Regions from separate parts of the Homo sapiens genome. Here all the other regions are reported to be linked to region 1. Evidence: microRNA targets listed by miRTarBase, many of them from high-throughput screens and not tested one by one. Region 1 holds a microRNA gene; each other region holds the end of a gene's coding sequence.
What was found. Region 1 holds the annotated microRNA hsa-miR-491-5p (AGUGGGGAACCCUUCCAUGAGG, at 3,561-3,582, opposite strand). A microRNA usually pairs through its seed, bases 2 to 8, with sites in the 3' UTR of a target mRNA and lowers its output. Matches are read on the target gene's strand: a 7mer-m8 pairs with bases 2 to 8, a 7mer-A1 pairs with bases 2 to 7 and ends in A, and an 8mer does both.

Region 2: the mRNA of SH3BP1 is a reported target of hsa-miR-491-5p. Seed matches in the 3' UTR shown: 7mer-m8 at 425-431 and 7mer-A1 at 458-464.
Region 3: miRTarBase lists HSPA14 as a target of hsa-miR-491-5p. The part of its 3' UTR that is shown has no 7-base or 8-base seed match.

The regions. Positions count from the first base shown.
Region 1 is chr9:20,714,702-20,719,701 of GRCh38, reverse strand. MIR491 (microRNA 491) reads right to left here and starts at 3,597; the gene lies at 3,514-3,597. It overlaps FOCAD (focadhesin), which reads right to left. Exons shown (of 44, transcript NM_001375567.1): 2 at 4,292-4,380; 3 at 1,834-1,908. The coding sequence starts at 4,348.
Region 2 is chr22:37,655,302-37,660,387 of GRCh38, forward strand. It overlaps SH3BP1 (SH3 domain binding protein 1), which reads left to right. Exons shown (of 18, transcript NM_018957.6): 18 at 1-816. The coding sequence ends at 383. PDXP (pyridoxal phosphatase) reads left to right here and starts at 3,422. Exons shown (of 2, transcript NM_020315.5): 1 at 3,422-4,055. The coding sequence starts at 3,482. PDXP-DT (PDXP divergent transcript) reads right to left here and starts at 3,076. Exons shown (of 6, transcript NR_109952.1): 1 at 2,954-3,076. RefSeq lists enhancers at 2,979-3,048, 3,059-3,108, 3,297-3,798, 4,625-5,086 and silencers at 3,299-3,608, 3,809-3,918.
Region 3 is chr10:14,871,325-14,876,410 of GRCh38, forward strand. HSPA14 (heat shock protein family A (Hsp70) member 14) reads left to right here. Exons shown (of 14, transcript NM_016299.4): 14 at 204-417. The coding sequence ends at 282. SUV39H2-DT (SUV39H2 divergent transcript) reads right to left here. Exons shown (of 1, transcript NR_186426.1): 1 at 4,999-5,086. Among named protein-coding and RNA genes, the nearest start is that of SUV39H2-DT, 4.8 kb to the right of the region's middle.

The sequences.
Region 1 (5,000 bases):
AAGAGCATGAGAAGGACATATAAGTAAATATAAGTTTTCATTTTAGAATACCCTATCAAAGCAGGGGTTCTAGCTTTTATAACTTTCTCAGGAATCCAGGACCACCAAAATGGTTCACTACTAACAATAAACCTATATGACTATATTGCAGATAAAGTCCATTTAGACTTACACACAGTTGTATTATAAAAAAAAAAGAACAAATAATGAAGCAATTTTTCCTTTTTCCTGATGCAACTTATTAGGGAAATATATAATTTGGGAAAAATTAATATCCCGGCTCCCAAAGAATAACTATTAATAAAAGAATGAAAATCAAGGCCAGGCACTGTGGCTCATGCCTGTAATCCCAACACTTTGGGAGGCCAAGGCGGGTGGATCAACTGAGGTCAGAAGTTCGAGACCAGCCTGGCCAACATGGTGAAACCCAGTCTCTACTAAAAATACAAAAAACTGGCTGGGTGTGGTGGCACACACCTGTAGTCCCAGCTACTCGGGAGGCTGAGATATGAGAACTGCTTGAACCCAGGAGGCAGAAGTTGCAGTGAGCTGAGATCACACCACTGCACTCCAGGCTGGGCGACAGAGCCAGACTCTGTCTCAAAAAAAAAAGAAAAGAAAATCAACATCATTTTGTACCCACTTTCCCTCTGTAGCTGGCTAAGAATCTTTTCTATCTTAGCATCCCACTATTAAAATAACAATACAGTTAACAATCACTACAGGAAGGAAATATTTATATTCCACTTCTCCTTTTATTCATAAGGACATTGTGTTCAGCTGTACTGACAATATCAAAAGGTTCTAAATGTCATCACTCTATTATTACACCGGAAAAACAAAACAAACAAATAAATAAACTGCTGCCTCAGGTAAGACTGTGTAAGCATTCATTTTTAGTAGAAGAGGAAACAGTTACAGGGATTTGACATTCAATAAATCCTGGCAGTTTAAGTAAAATCACTAGATCTTCTCAAAGTACACAATGTGATTATAGGCAGGATTAGGATCAGAGTTTTCAGAAAACCTAATTTATATGACTACATACAAACACCAGAAAAATGCCAATTAGTGAAGTGTGTCCTACACTTACTTCAACATGTCTGCAGAAGCAATAAAGAAATGTAACTTGGAGCAGCTAATCAAAAAGAATGTGAGACAAAGGAAATCAATTTATTTCTGCTGTGAAAAAAAAGAATCTTATTTCCATCACTTATGTTCCCTATAGAGGACACCTGAGAACACCTCTCTTAAAAGAAGAGTTTCCCAACTAGCAGGTCAAAACACACAACACTGATCAACCAAACCCCAAGTGTATCTCAGTAAGCTGGCATTGCTTCAACTCTGAGCATTCACCTGCTATTTGTGTAAGATGGAATTTTTCAGCTTTGACTGTCAATGTATGACCTTTCCAACTAAGAACTCACAGCTGGGGCTGAGCTGAAGCATGAGAAATCTACATCCAAACAGAGCCACTCTGTTCATTCTCTTCATTACCAAAATAATTCCCTCAGAGGTAACTCTATCAATCTTCTCTAAAGCATGCTTTCTCTCATTCCACCCATATTATTTTTCATTAATAGTCATAAGAATACTCCTCTCCAGCCCTTCCCTCCATGTCTCATTCCTAGAGGGTTTTAATAAATTTAAAACTTTTTTATTGCTATATATTAAAAAGGCAAACAAATAAACAAAAAAGGCAATGAAGTTCTCACAGTTCAAAAGCATTTCTACTGTGATCTGAACTATCAGGGAAACAAGACAGGTGCATATGTGATCCAGCTAGTAGCAATCTTATCTGAAGAGAATTAAAGCATAAAGTTAAACACAGACCTGATTTGTAGATTGGTGAATCTTTTCTGAAAAACCATTTTCCTTTAGGACTGCAGCAATAAGATGACCCACAGCCTTAAAAAGAAATAAAATTAATGAACACAGTCCCTTAGAAGTTCTTTCCAAATATCAATACTAGTTGATATGAGTATGCCAGGCAGTCAATTAGGATTAAGTAAAATTCCCATTAACTAAGTGTGTGCTATGTAGAAGGCATTGAATTAGGCACTCCACATGCACAATTTCTAATCTTCAGAATAGCCCTCAAGGTAGGCATATCTATCCCAGGTTACCAATAAGCAACTATAGTGCATAGAGGTTAAGAAAACTGCCAGATTTTTGGTTCAAATTGCTGTCAGTATCAGAAGATAACTTGAGATTGCTTACTCCATTAAAACATGAATGAGAAAGCCCATAGTTTTTAAAATCATCTTTGCACTGAAACGAAATCCACCATGCTTCATCACACTGTTAACGAATATGAAGAATATGTCTTAGAGCCAATAGGCTAGCAACAATCATTGCCATTCTGTGTACGGGTTGGAAACTACTTCACTATTGCTACAACTGTCCATCCTGCACTTGGGACCAAATTACGGTATAGCTGTGAATAACTGTCAGTCCTGCAAAGTCTCCAGAACAGCTCAAATAAAAACACAGCACCCACTCCTTCCTCATTTTTCTCTTTGTATTTCACACATTGGAACTGATTTAAGACCGTGGTGCTTGTGGTCTAGTTTTGTGATATAAGTCACTCATTTACATGAATATTAAGTTTAGTCCAACTTACTGTCTCTTATCTCCTAGTAAAAGGAATAGTAATAAGAACTGAGCACCCATGGATAGGTTGAGCTCCTGTTTTACAAAACATACCATATTTCATTGAATGGAACTGACCAGGAATTGCAAGTTGCACCATTATACTGTGTGCCACTAAGAAAGAAAAAAGGCTGCCAATTAGTCTATGATATACAGTGCTTCTTATAAGTCGGAATTTTGGTTTTATAGTCACACAAGAGTTCTTTTAGACTCGTGTAGAAAATCATGCCCAAGTTCACAAATGTGCAGGCAATACCAACTGTATCTCAACTGCTGCCATCAATTACTAGAGGCAATCCAATTTCAAAGATGTTAAAATCTGAAAAAAAACGTGTGTGAATCAAAGAAATATGGTGCTAACATCGAGCAGTGGTTACAGAAGAACAATAAGAAATATTTGCAAAGGACAGGACACAATCACAAGAACCTAATAAAACTAATATGAAACACAATAGGGACAAAGAAAAAGCTATAGTTCATATCTAGAAAAAGAAATAAAAGAAGAGAAGCTTAATTCCCCATTCCCCACCAGGTTGAATTTATCTAATATACTTTTCACTTCATCTTCTAACAAATCAGAGATACTAGCCTAAACTGATTTTTTAAAATACAAAACCCAAGGATAAATCAGCCTACATTGCTACTTAAGTGTTCTATAACAGAATTCAAATAGCCATCCTACACTAAACAATATAAATATATATATATATTTTTTTCACCTAATTTAACAGTAACACGTATGGGCATTTCTTGATTATCTATGTTAACAAAGAGACTCCAGGCACAGAAAAATAAAACTGTGAATAGTATCCTCCAAGCCTTCATCTTCTTCTTCATGGTAAGGACCTGCAGGATATGACTCCAACCCAGCCAGGTAGAAGGGAATCTTGCATAAGGAGTGTTCTACTCCTCATGGAAGGGTTCCCCACTACCCAGCTAAGTCAATTCCCACAGCAGACATCTCCGAAGTTAATTGTTGAAAGTATCCAAGGTGCTGTATGTTGTTAAGTCTTCAAGATGGCTTCTGCTGGTCTGTTAGCTTTACTCTCACAAGAAAAGACAATAAGCTATTATGATACCTTGATTAACCAGAATGTTTCTAGTTAGCTAAAGGCTACCCAGAAAGCCATCTTTGTTTTAACTATTTAATTATTGAAAAGCTCTTTAAAGTTATCACAATCTTCTATCTTAGTAGATATATCAAATTTTCTAATCCAGGATATTTTACTTATTAAATATCATTATTATAAAAATCTATATAAGGGGTAGGATATGTCTTCTTAAATATTAATCCCTCATACTCTTCAGACATATAACTGTTTACCTCTGTTCCCAATAATCATAGGCCAAAAAAAACCAAACAAACATATTCAGGGGCCTACTAGTTAATCAAGGTTTTATTATCTCTAGGAAGAAAAGTATGATATATAAACAGAAGCTGAGATTGATCAATTTCAAATATTTGCTTTCCATGTCAAATATATATTTTCAAATTAAATGTATATTTAAAGTTGTTTCACAAAATATAAATCTCTACATGTAGAATAAAATATTTAATATTAAATATATAAAGTTCAGTTAAAAATCCACAGAACAGGTTTATTTGTTACCATGAGCAAAAATAAACAAACAAAATTACCTGTGATTGGATAAGAGAATTTGGAAATTCAAACCTTTTCCTGATATCATCTGACATTTTTGCTTCTCTTACATGTATGTGTGCAGCTTCTGTAACCAAAACAAAAGAATATTTGTTAGTCTTCCAACTGGTCTGAATTGGGGCTCCAATTAATTATTCCTCAAATAATGTGAATGTAATCCATTCCAAAGATAACAATGGAAATAAAGCACAGGGCTCTGCAGAGTAATCCTTGGCAAAACTTCATTGTCATCCAGCACTCAAATGTCATGATTGATAAATAAACTAAAAATGCCCAACAGCTCTTGGTTTTTCCCATGAGAGCTAATCCTGAAAAAGATGAATTTGCACTACGGAAATGAAAAAAACATCCAAAAGTTCAACCACACATTTGAAATAGAAATTAATTCTTTTGTGGATCAAAACTTATAAGGGAGAAAGAGTCAAACGGTCATAAAATTACTTCATCTATGCCTCACTTTGGCACAAGCTTTCATCTAAGCACTAATCCAACTGCTAGTGACAAGTGTGAAGCCTAGGTGAACTTTTTTCAAGAAGTATAGAAAAGACCTAGAAGTTCACACATTAAAACAGACTGTTTCCTAAAGGAGGAACAAGCAAACAATTAGCACCAACTTTTAATATTTATATCTCACTTATCATTCCTACTGGGCTCACAAGAAAAGAAAAGTGAAAGAGAGAAAGAGAG
Region 2 (5,086 bases), not on the chromosome of region 1:
TGCCGCCCCCCCAGGTCTCCGGCTCCCGCTCCTCCCCTCCAGCCCCGCCCTTGCCCCCTGGCTCTGGCAGCCCTGGGACCCCCCAAGCCCTGCCCCGACGTCTGGTTGGCAGCAGCCTCCGAGCCCCCACAGTGCCACCCCCGTTACCCCCCACACCCCCTCAGCCTGCCCGGCGCCAAAGCCGGCGTTCACCAGCCTCCCCCAGCCCGGCCTCCCCAGGTCCAGCCTCCCCCAGCCCAGTCTCTTTGAGTAACCCTGCACAGGTGGACCTGGGGGCTGCCACAGCAGAGGGAGGAGCCCCTGAGGCTATCAGTGGGGTCCCCACTCCCCCAGCTATCCCCCCTCAGCCCCGCCCCAGGAGCCTTGCCTCAGAGACCAACTGAGTGGCTGGTTTCTCCCTAAGCAGCCCTCAGCACCCCCTCCCTCCCCACCTGGCCCTCCCAGGACAGCTCTCGCCCCCCACAAAGGGGCATGGGCCTCCAGCCTTTGCCCACAAGTGCCTCAGTGCCCACTGGGTCGGCCCCCATGGCCAGGAGGGCTCAGGACAATCCTCTATTTCCTGACCTTTTCCTCGTCCACCCTGGGCTTGGGGACCCCCCCACCGGACTCTCCACTCTCCGGCAGGTCCTAGGGGAGCCACCGGAAGGAAGGAGAGGTTTGCCTGCTCCTACGGGACTGATTCTTCTCTTGCCGACATGTTTTTTGTAAGGCTGGTAAATAAATTATTTTGGACAAAACTGGAGCAGCTGCCCAAATGATAGTTTTATTTTCTGTCCTTGAAATAAAGAAGCCAATTTTATAAAGGGGAAAACAATACATATTCTTTGCCTCCTTTCTTCCTGTCTGAAGTGAGATCACAGCAGACATTTTTAGAGCTTTCTCTGCACTACATGCTGTGCTGTTCTGTGGATGATTTCCACTTAATCTTCTCCTACTGCAGGAAATACCATTACCTCTTAGCAGTGAGGAGACTGAGGCCCAGACAGAAGTGACCTGCCAAGGTCACACGGCAGTCAGGCAGGGGCCTGGGATTAGAGCCTAGGTCTGACTCCAAAGCCTGGCTTGTCCCTCACATTCTGGGCAATTTACTTAACTTCTTGGTATCCCTTTTCCTCATTTGTGAAACTTTATAACAATTCCCTCCACAGAGGTATTGCTCTCCATTGAAAACCAAAGCACCACCCTTGGCCCACAGAAGCCCCTACCGCTCCCACTGTTTCCTGGACCCCTCACTCTCCTTCCGGGAGGAGGCTGGGAAGCCTCCCCAAGGAGCAGGGATGGATCTGTCCTCAAACCTTCCCTAAATCTGCTCTGTGCCAGGCCCTGAGCTAGCTCCAAGACTTAACCCTACACCCAAAGAGTTCCCAAACAGACAGGCAGAAGCAACCATTAGAATCAAGTGTCTGGCCAGGCACGGTGTCTCATGCCTATAATCCCAGCACTGGGAGCCTGAGGCAGGAGGATCACTTGAGCCCAGGAGTTCTAGACCAGCCTGGACAACATAGTGAGACCCTGTCTCTACAAAAAAAAAAATTTTAATTAACTGGGTGTAGTGGCGTGTGCCTGTAGTCTCAGCAACTAGGAAGGCTGAGGCAGGAGGATCGCTTGAGCCCAGGAGTTGGAGGCTTCAGTGAGCAGTGATCATGCCACTGCACTCCAGCCTGGGTGACGGTGTAAGACCCTGTCTCAAAAACAAAAAAAATCAAGTGTCATTGCACTGGGAGCCCATATTAGCCAAGTTAGGGGTGGCCATATAACCTAGACTCATGGTATGGGGTGGGTGGTTAAGAACGGCTTCCTGGAGAAGGTGATATTTAAGGGAAGTCTTTCAGGAGCTGACCTGAAGGTGAATTTTGTTTATTTTTATTTATTTTATTTATTTTTTATTTTTTGTTTATTTTTTTTTGAGATGGAGTCTCGCTCTGTTGCCCAGGCTGGAGTGCATTGGCACGATCTCAGGTCGCTGCAAGCTCCGCCTCCTGGGTTCAAGCAATTCTCCTGCCTCAGCCTCCCGAGTAGCTGGGACTACAGGCACCCGCCACCACGCCTAGCTAATTTTTTTCTTTTTTTTTTTTTTTTTTTTTGTATTTTTAGTAGAGACGGGGTTTCACCGTAGCCAGGATGGTCTCGATCTCCTGACCTCGTGATCCGCCCACCTCAGCCTCCCAAAGTGCTGGGATTACAGGCGTGAGCCACCGAGCCCGGCCCTGAAGGTGAAATTTTTAAAGGAAAAAGGAACATTCAGGCCAAGGAGACTATCTATGCAAAGGCCAGGAGCAAAAGGCTTAGGGCACTTGGGGAATAGGAGCTAGTTGAGCTTCCAAGGTTGGGTACAAGGTACAGTTTTTCCCAAGTCGTTGGAGCTCCAGTTGCTCCTGGGGGTCACAGCCTTATCTGAAGTTGGCAGACAACTTCAAAACTGTGACACCACAGCTCACAATTCATTCATCCCCACACTGCAGACCAGTGGCTCCTCAAAGGTCCCAAGACCTGTGGTTGCTTCCAGATCACAAGGCCTCCTCCCTAAGACAGGGACCCAGCCAACCTGGGTCACCCCATTACTATTCTGGGCAATTGGCCACGACCATTCTGGATCCTGCCCTCCCGGGGCGTGCTGCAGTGACAGCCTACCAGCCTCTAGCCCAGTGCTTCCCTACCCTATCCTAGCTCACGGTAGAATCCCTGGAATTAAACCAACTAACCAACAAACCAAAAAATGCCCAGTCTTCACCCAAAACACTTACATGAGGATCTGTCCTGCTACACATCGGTGATTTCAAAAGCATTTGTCAAGACATTGAACTGTACATTTAAGATCTATGCATTTTACTATATGTAAATGATATCTGAAAATAAGTTCCCAGGGGACTCTAACGCAGTGTGAAGAACTACTGGTCTAGACCGAGGGCTCCAGCACCCAAGAAGACACCATGTGCCTCGTACCCCATCGTACACACACGTTTCTTGGGACTTCGCTCTGAACTGGAGCGTCCACGATTCAGGGGGCAATGAGATTCGACCCAAAGGCAGTTCATTTAACATCTGTTTTTCTCCCAGCAACCAGCTCGCCTAAGCTTCTGATTGGCTGGAGGGCACGGGGCCTTTCGCTTCGCGTTTTGTTTGTAGATTCTTATTGGTTAAGAAGAGCGTCAGTCTCCCACCGCGTAAGAGTGTAGTCGGCGTTGAAACTCGGCGGCGACTGGTCCAGCAGAACCAGGGACGGGGAGAAGGATCAAGCTAGCTCTTCATTGGTCCCTTCCCCTCGGTGTTGGCCACGAATCCGCCCCTCTCTCCAAGTTCCGTTAGCTCGCGGCTTCGCTCCTCTCCCAGACTCTCGCCCCCATTGGCTGCAGGCCACGCCGTCGCCCCGCCCCCCGGTCCTTCCAGCGCGCCAATTGGCGGCTGCGTGGAACGTGCCAGGGAGAGCGCGCCGTGCCCGCGGAGAGAGCGCGGCGCGGGAGGCCGGCGGCCGGCCGGCTGCATGGCGCGCTGCGAGAGGCTGCGCGGAGCGGCCCTGCGCGACGTGCTGGGCCGGGCGCAGGGGGTCCTGTTCGACTGTGACGGGGTGCTGTGGAACGGCGAGCGCGCCGTGCCGGGCGCCCCGGAGCTGCTGGAGCGGCTGGCGCGGGCCGGCAAGGCGGCTCTGTTTGTGAGCAACAACAGCCGGCGCGCGCGGCCCGAGCTGGCCCTGCGCTTCGCGCGCCTCGGCTTCGGGGGGCTGCGCGCCGAGCAGCTCTTCAGCTCCGCGCTGTGCGCCGCGCGCCTGCTGCGCCAGCGCCTGCCCGGGCCTCCGGACGCGCCGGGCGCCGTGTTCGTGCTGGGCGGCGAGGGGCTGCGCGCCGAGCTGCGCGCCGCGGGGCTGCGCCTGGCCGGGGACCCGAGCGCGGGGGACGGCGCGGCCCCGCGCGTGCGCGCCGTGCTTGTGGGCTACGACGAGCACTTCTCCTTCGCCAAGCTGAGGGAGGCGTGCGCGCACCTGCGCGACCCCGAGTGCCTACTCGTGGCCACCGACCGTGACCCATGGCACCCGCTGAGCGACGGCAGCCGGACCCCTGGTGAGCGCGGGAATGGCGGGGAAACTGAGATGGGGGCGACCTGCGCATTCGCCTCCACGCCTAAGGGTGAGGGGCGGGGAAGAGGCGTCTCCAGGTGGCAGGTGGGGAACAGGAGAGTGCGAGGGAGGCCCAGGGTGCTTTGGTGTGGGGGGCGGTTGATCCCTGTAGCCGTCATCCTGTGAGGCGCAGCAGTGTGGTCCCTGTTGGACAGATGAGGAAACTGAGGCCCTTTGTAACTTAGGGAGTTGGGCGGAATTCTGCCCTACCCACCATCGGGGTGGGGTTGGAGAGGAAGCCTGGGAGGATTGTCCCCCTGTGTGAGGGTTGAAACACCATTCCCAGAGGCAGGGTGTAGGCAGGTGTGTGGGGAGCAAAGGCGGTGGAGTTTGACCTCAGTTCCAGGTCCAGCTCCAGCTTCACAGCTGTGTAATCGTGTTCAGTTACATAACCTCCAAGCATCTCTGCCTGGGTGAGAAATGGCAGTGCTCAGCATGCCCGGTGACGGTGATCAGGGTGAGTGCCTGGCACATAGTAGGTGTTCAGATGATGTAAGTTGTAGCCAGAGTCCCCCATGTTACAGAGAACTTAATGAAACAGCTTTGTGTGTGTTCTTCTTTGGTTTCCAAATTACTCTGGAGATGGAAGTTATTGTCCCATTTCTCAAGTAAAGAGACTGAGGCAGCCGGATGCAGTGGCAACAGCCTGTAGTCCCAGCTACTCGAGAGGCTGAGGCGGGAGGATTGCTTGAGCCTAGGAGGTCAAGGCTGTAGCGTGCTATCATTGCATCTGTGAAAAGCCACTGTACTTCAGCATGGGCAACATAGTGAGACCTTATCTCTAAAAGAAGAGGAAAGAAACTGAGACTAAGAGAAGGGAAGTGAGCTGCCCAAGAACAGATATAGTGAGCCCCTCCACCTCCTGTGTCCCCACACACCTGCCTCCATCCTGCCTCTGGGAATTGGTGTTTCAGCCCTCACAAGTAGGGACAGTCCTCGCAGGCTTCCCCTCCAACCCTCCAACCGCACCCCAAT
Region 3 (5,086 bases), not on the chromosome of region 1:
CTAATAACAACTAGCTAAATATAACATATGACACTTACTAAATTTAGAGACACTGAGATTGTGTTTATTCTTTACATTAATACCCTTCTTTTGAAAATTAAAATTAACCCTTGTTTACTGAAAGCCCTCAAGTAACTTGTTACAGACTTTATGTTTTTATAAAATGAGCTTGTGCAATGTTCTTTATTTTTTTGTCTGTTTAGGGATGGATCTTTACATGTGACATGCACAGATCAAGAAACTGGAAAATGTGAAGCAATCTCTATTGAGATAGCATCTTAGTGTTTTAGAGAAATCAAGAATTTTTAAAAACAAGAATATCAACATTTGGTTTTGTGTATAAGTGGTGTTTGTATTAAAATACTTTTTCAATGAACTGTATAAACTATGTTTTATTAAACTACAATATATCAGTAAGTGTTGCAACCCTTTGTTTTTGACGTACAGTAACCTCTTATTACTGGGAAATATAAGGAAGTTTTTTTTTTTTTTTATCATGAAGCTGTTTAGAATTAAACTGAGTTGGTTAAAGAATTTTCTATAACATTTAATTTGTAAAAGTCTTCTATTGATTCTTGTTAGATAACCAAGAGAACAATTAAAAGTCATTGACATTAATTGAAAAAAATTTCAGGACCACATAGAAAGTAAGATGCCTTTTTTTGTTGGTTTTTGTTTTTAGAGACAGGATTTTGCACTGCCACCGAGGCTCAAGTGCAGTGGTGGGATCATATCTCACAGCAGCCTCGAACTGCTGGGCTCAAGCAGTCTTCCTGCCTTAGCCTCCCTTGTAGCCGGGACTACAGATGTGCACCATCACACCTGGCAATTTTTTTTTTTTTTTTTTTTTTTTTGGAGAGACGGGTCTTGCTATGTTGCCCAGGATGGTCCCAAACTGCTGGTCTCAAGCAGTCCTCCCGCCTTAGCCCCACAAAGTGCTGGGATTACAGGCATAAGCGACAGCCATTTTTTAAGTAAACTGATAAACTCAACAACTAGGAGAGGGGCTTTTACTTTTTACAGTTTTGTTTAGTTTATTTCTTCCAACAAACATGTTTTTCTTTTGAAATTAAAAGATCTCTTTAGGGCTGGGCACGGTGGCTTACACCTGTAATTCCAGCACTTTGGGAGGCAGAGATGGGAGGATCACTTGAGGCTAGGAGTTCCAGACCAGCCTGGCCAACGTGGTGAAACCCCATCTCTACTAAAAATACAAAAAATTAGTTGGGCGTGGTGGTGTGCGCCTGTAGTCTTAGCAACTCCTGAGACTGAATCCCTTGATCCCAGGAGGCAGAGGTTGCAGTGAGCCGAGATCACGCCACTGCACTGCAGCCTGGGTGACAGAGTGATACTCCATCTCAAAAAAAGAAAAAAAAAATCTCTTTAGTTTGAAGAGAAGGCTAGCCACATTCTGTTTACCAGAGAATATTCACTAGAGCCCTGAGATCCTCAGTGGGTTCCAGTGAAAACTTATTCATGTTGGCTGCTATGGAGTTAGTTGGTAGTACCCTTCTAAAAGTTTTTAAAGATCCAGAAACCAAACTTAAATTTTTTCATCATTATTTTGCATCAAATTATTGACAGAACCATGAAGAGAATTCAGATATGATTTTAAGTCCACAGAGTCTTTAAATACAGAAGCAGCTTTAAAGGTGTACTCTTTGTCCTAAGTTATTAGTTATTTCTTAGGATCTTTTTCCAAAGTCATAGAAAATTTGAAATAAAAGTGATTTTGGTATAAGCAATTCAGTGGCTTCAGAACACAGGAAAACACCAACTGAACTAGTTCTACTGCTAGGTCTACATGCTTTCAATTATGCTTTGAAAAACTTTTAGGATTTTATTTTGTGGTTATTGTTAGCTTTTAAAATAGATCTGGGGTGCCAAACTATGGCCAGTGAGTCAGATCTATCTCACCCCTGTTTTCATAGATAAAATTTTATTAGAACACAGTCACACTCTAATTGTATATGGGCTGGCTGTGGCGGTTTTCACATTAGAGTGGCAGAGATGAATAGTTGCACAAAGGCTGTGTGGCCCACAAAGCTTAAAATATTTACTGTCTGGCCTTCTACATAAAAAATTTGACACCTAAAGTACATTATTGAAACTTATAGAATAAAATAACTTCTTCTAAAGTTTTCTGCTATATTTATGTAATGCTTTACTTATTGGCTCCTTTCCCCACTAGATTATTAAGCATTGTGAGAGCAGATACTCTCAGTCTTAGTCACCATTTTGCCTCAGCCCCTACAACAGTACGTGAGCATAGTGGGTGTTCCTAAGTGCTTATCAAATAAATGAATTATGTGGAAGAAAAAATAATGTCATGTTTGTATGCTACAGGACAATGGCCAGTGAGTAGTACATCTGTTGTATATTTTATGGTTTGTTTAGAAACATAAGGAAGGAAAGGAATAGCACTGCTGACTTTATTGGTCAGCTTTGCATGTTTGTTTGGTTGTTTTCCCCTAGACTTATCAAATTTGAAATTGTCATCAATAAGTCCTCTACTGCCTAATGAAATTCTTCCACATTTTTTCGTACCCTCAGGTGATAAGTTTTTTCCTTGTGAATTTTTGAAAGATTTGCTGACAAAATTTTCTAGTGTTTTTTTATTTTTCAAGGTGAAAATAGCTTTAAATTTTTTGTTTGTAAGAATGATACATAGTCAATATAAAATTCAAATTCCAAAAGAAAAAAATATAAAACATTCTTTATTCTACCATCCAGAATAGTAACTATAAAGATTTTTGGTGAGTACCTTGATAATCTTTTCATGTACATCCTAGTTATCTTTGTTATATGTATGTCGTAGCAAAGATAATTGGGATGTACATGAGATACATGCAATTTATACTCATGAAATGTAAATATATTTCATGAAGTTTAAATATGTATATATTTAAATGTGGGGAAAGTAGTCAAGTAAGTGAAGTATTACATAAATATGGAAGAAAAGTTTTGAAGAAGTCATTTTATTGTGGAAGTTTCAATAATCTACCTCGGGTCAAGTTTTTTATATAAAAGGCCAGATAGTAAATATATACATATTTAAACTTAAACACTTTTACCACTAAAAGCTTATGTCAAATTATAGTTTTGCCTATTTACATCTGACATTGTCTGAAGAACAGAGCCAAATATAAAAATAGGAAGAAATACCTATGATGTGAAAGTCTTGGAACGTGTCTTAGTTTGGACTGCTATAATAAAGTACCATAGTCTGGGGGGTGGCTTGTAAACATCAGAAATGTATCATAGTTCTGGAGGCTGGAAGTCAGTTCGGGTGCTGGACCAGGCTGGAAGCGGGGCCGGGTTCTGATGAGGGCTCCCTTTTGGGTTGCCAGCTATCCTTATAACCTCACACGGAGGATAGAGGGCGAGAGAGCTCTGAAGGGTCCCTCTTGTAAGGGTGTCAATCCCATGCATGCAGCCTCCACCTTCATGATTTAATCACCTCCCAAAGGCCCCACCTCCCAATATAATCACTTTGGGGGCGAGGATTTCAACACTGGAATTTTTCAGAGATGAAAACGTTCAGTCCTTAACAGGAGGTCACAAAATATTCATCACAAACTGAAAGCTTTTATATGTATAAGAATTCTTAAAAGTATCCTAGCATAAAAGTTCTATGGGAAAAATCACAATATCTAAAATGATAATGAGTGACCATATAATACTGTTATTTGCTTTAATTCATTATCTCATTTTAAAATTTTGATCTCATCACAATTCCACGAGTAGTTGTACTATGTAGAGAGTAATATGGCCTTGGTTATTTCTGTTTTCCAGATAATAGATTCACAGCAGTTAAATAAAGTATCCAAGGTCTCACAGTGAATAAATGGTGGATTTTGAACTAACATTCAGATGCTTATTTTGTAAACTTAATTTTTCTTGACTGCTTACTATTTTAAGCACATTACATGGATTATTTCATTTAAATTCACATTCTTAATCTAGTGTTCATTCTATGATTCTTTGCCTCTCAGAAGAGAACGTTTATTTCAGTAGAAGAGGAGACACTCCAGAAATCATGTGGTCTTTGTGAAAAAAATACTGGGAAAGGGTCATGATTCTCTACTTTTCCCTTGAGGACCCTGGTGTGTGTCTCTCAGTGGCTTTTTATTTCTCTCTCCATTTATAGCCAGGATTTACCAACACCCTCAAACATTTTAGTCCCAGGAACCCTTTATAGTCTTAAAAAATAACATGTTGAGAACCCATAGAGCTTTTGTTTGTTACATATACATAAAATGTAGTTATATAACTATAGTTACCATATGGAAATTAAAACCAATTTTAAAAATTATTTCTAAGTAATAAAGTTAATTTTTTATGAGAAATAATTTTTCTAAGACAAAAAATTAGTGGCAAGGGTGGTATCTGGGGTTTTATTTTTTGTTTTTTGTCTTGAGACAGGGTCTTGCTCTGTTGCCCAGGCTGCAATGTAGTGGTTTGATCATAGCTCACTACACCCTCAAACTCCTGGGCTCAAGCGATCCTCCCACCTCAGCTTCCTGAGTAGCTGGGACCCCAGGCATGTGCCACCACGCCCAGCTAATTTTTTAGTAGGGTTGCCCTGGCTGGTCTCTAGCAATTCCTCAGCCTCCCAAAGTGCCAAGATTATACGTGCGAGCCACTTTGCCTAGCCAAAAGCAGTATTTTGTATTTTTTCAAATCTCTTTAATGTCTGGCTTAATAGGAGATAGCTATGTTCTGGTACCTGCGTCTTCGTTCAATGTGTTGCAATATTCAAATTGTGTAACCTCTAGAAAATTCCACTATGTACTCATGAGCGAAGGAAGGCAGAGAACATGTTGGTCTGAAAATAGTTTTGCGCTCATGAACCCTGTGAAGAGTCTTCGGGTCCCAATTACCATACTTTGAGAATTGCTGCTCTAGATAGTAAACACGGTGATGAATGTTGAACAGACAGGGCCTCATCTATGCGCTGGAATGGATGGGATTCAAGACACGAAACGAAACACTGGATTTACAAAATAGTGCGATGCATTCATTATGAATCAAGACCAAAGAACAAAAACCCGACAAGATAATTGCAAATTTTGATGAGTGCTTT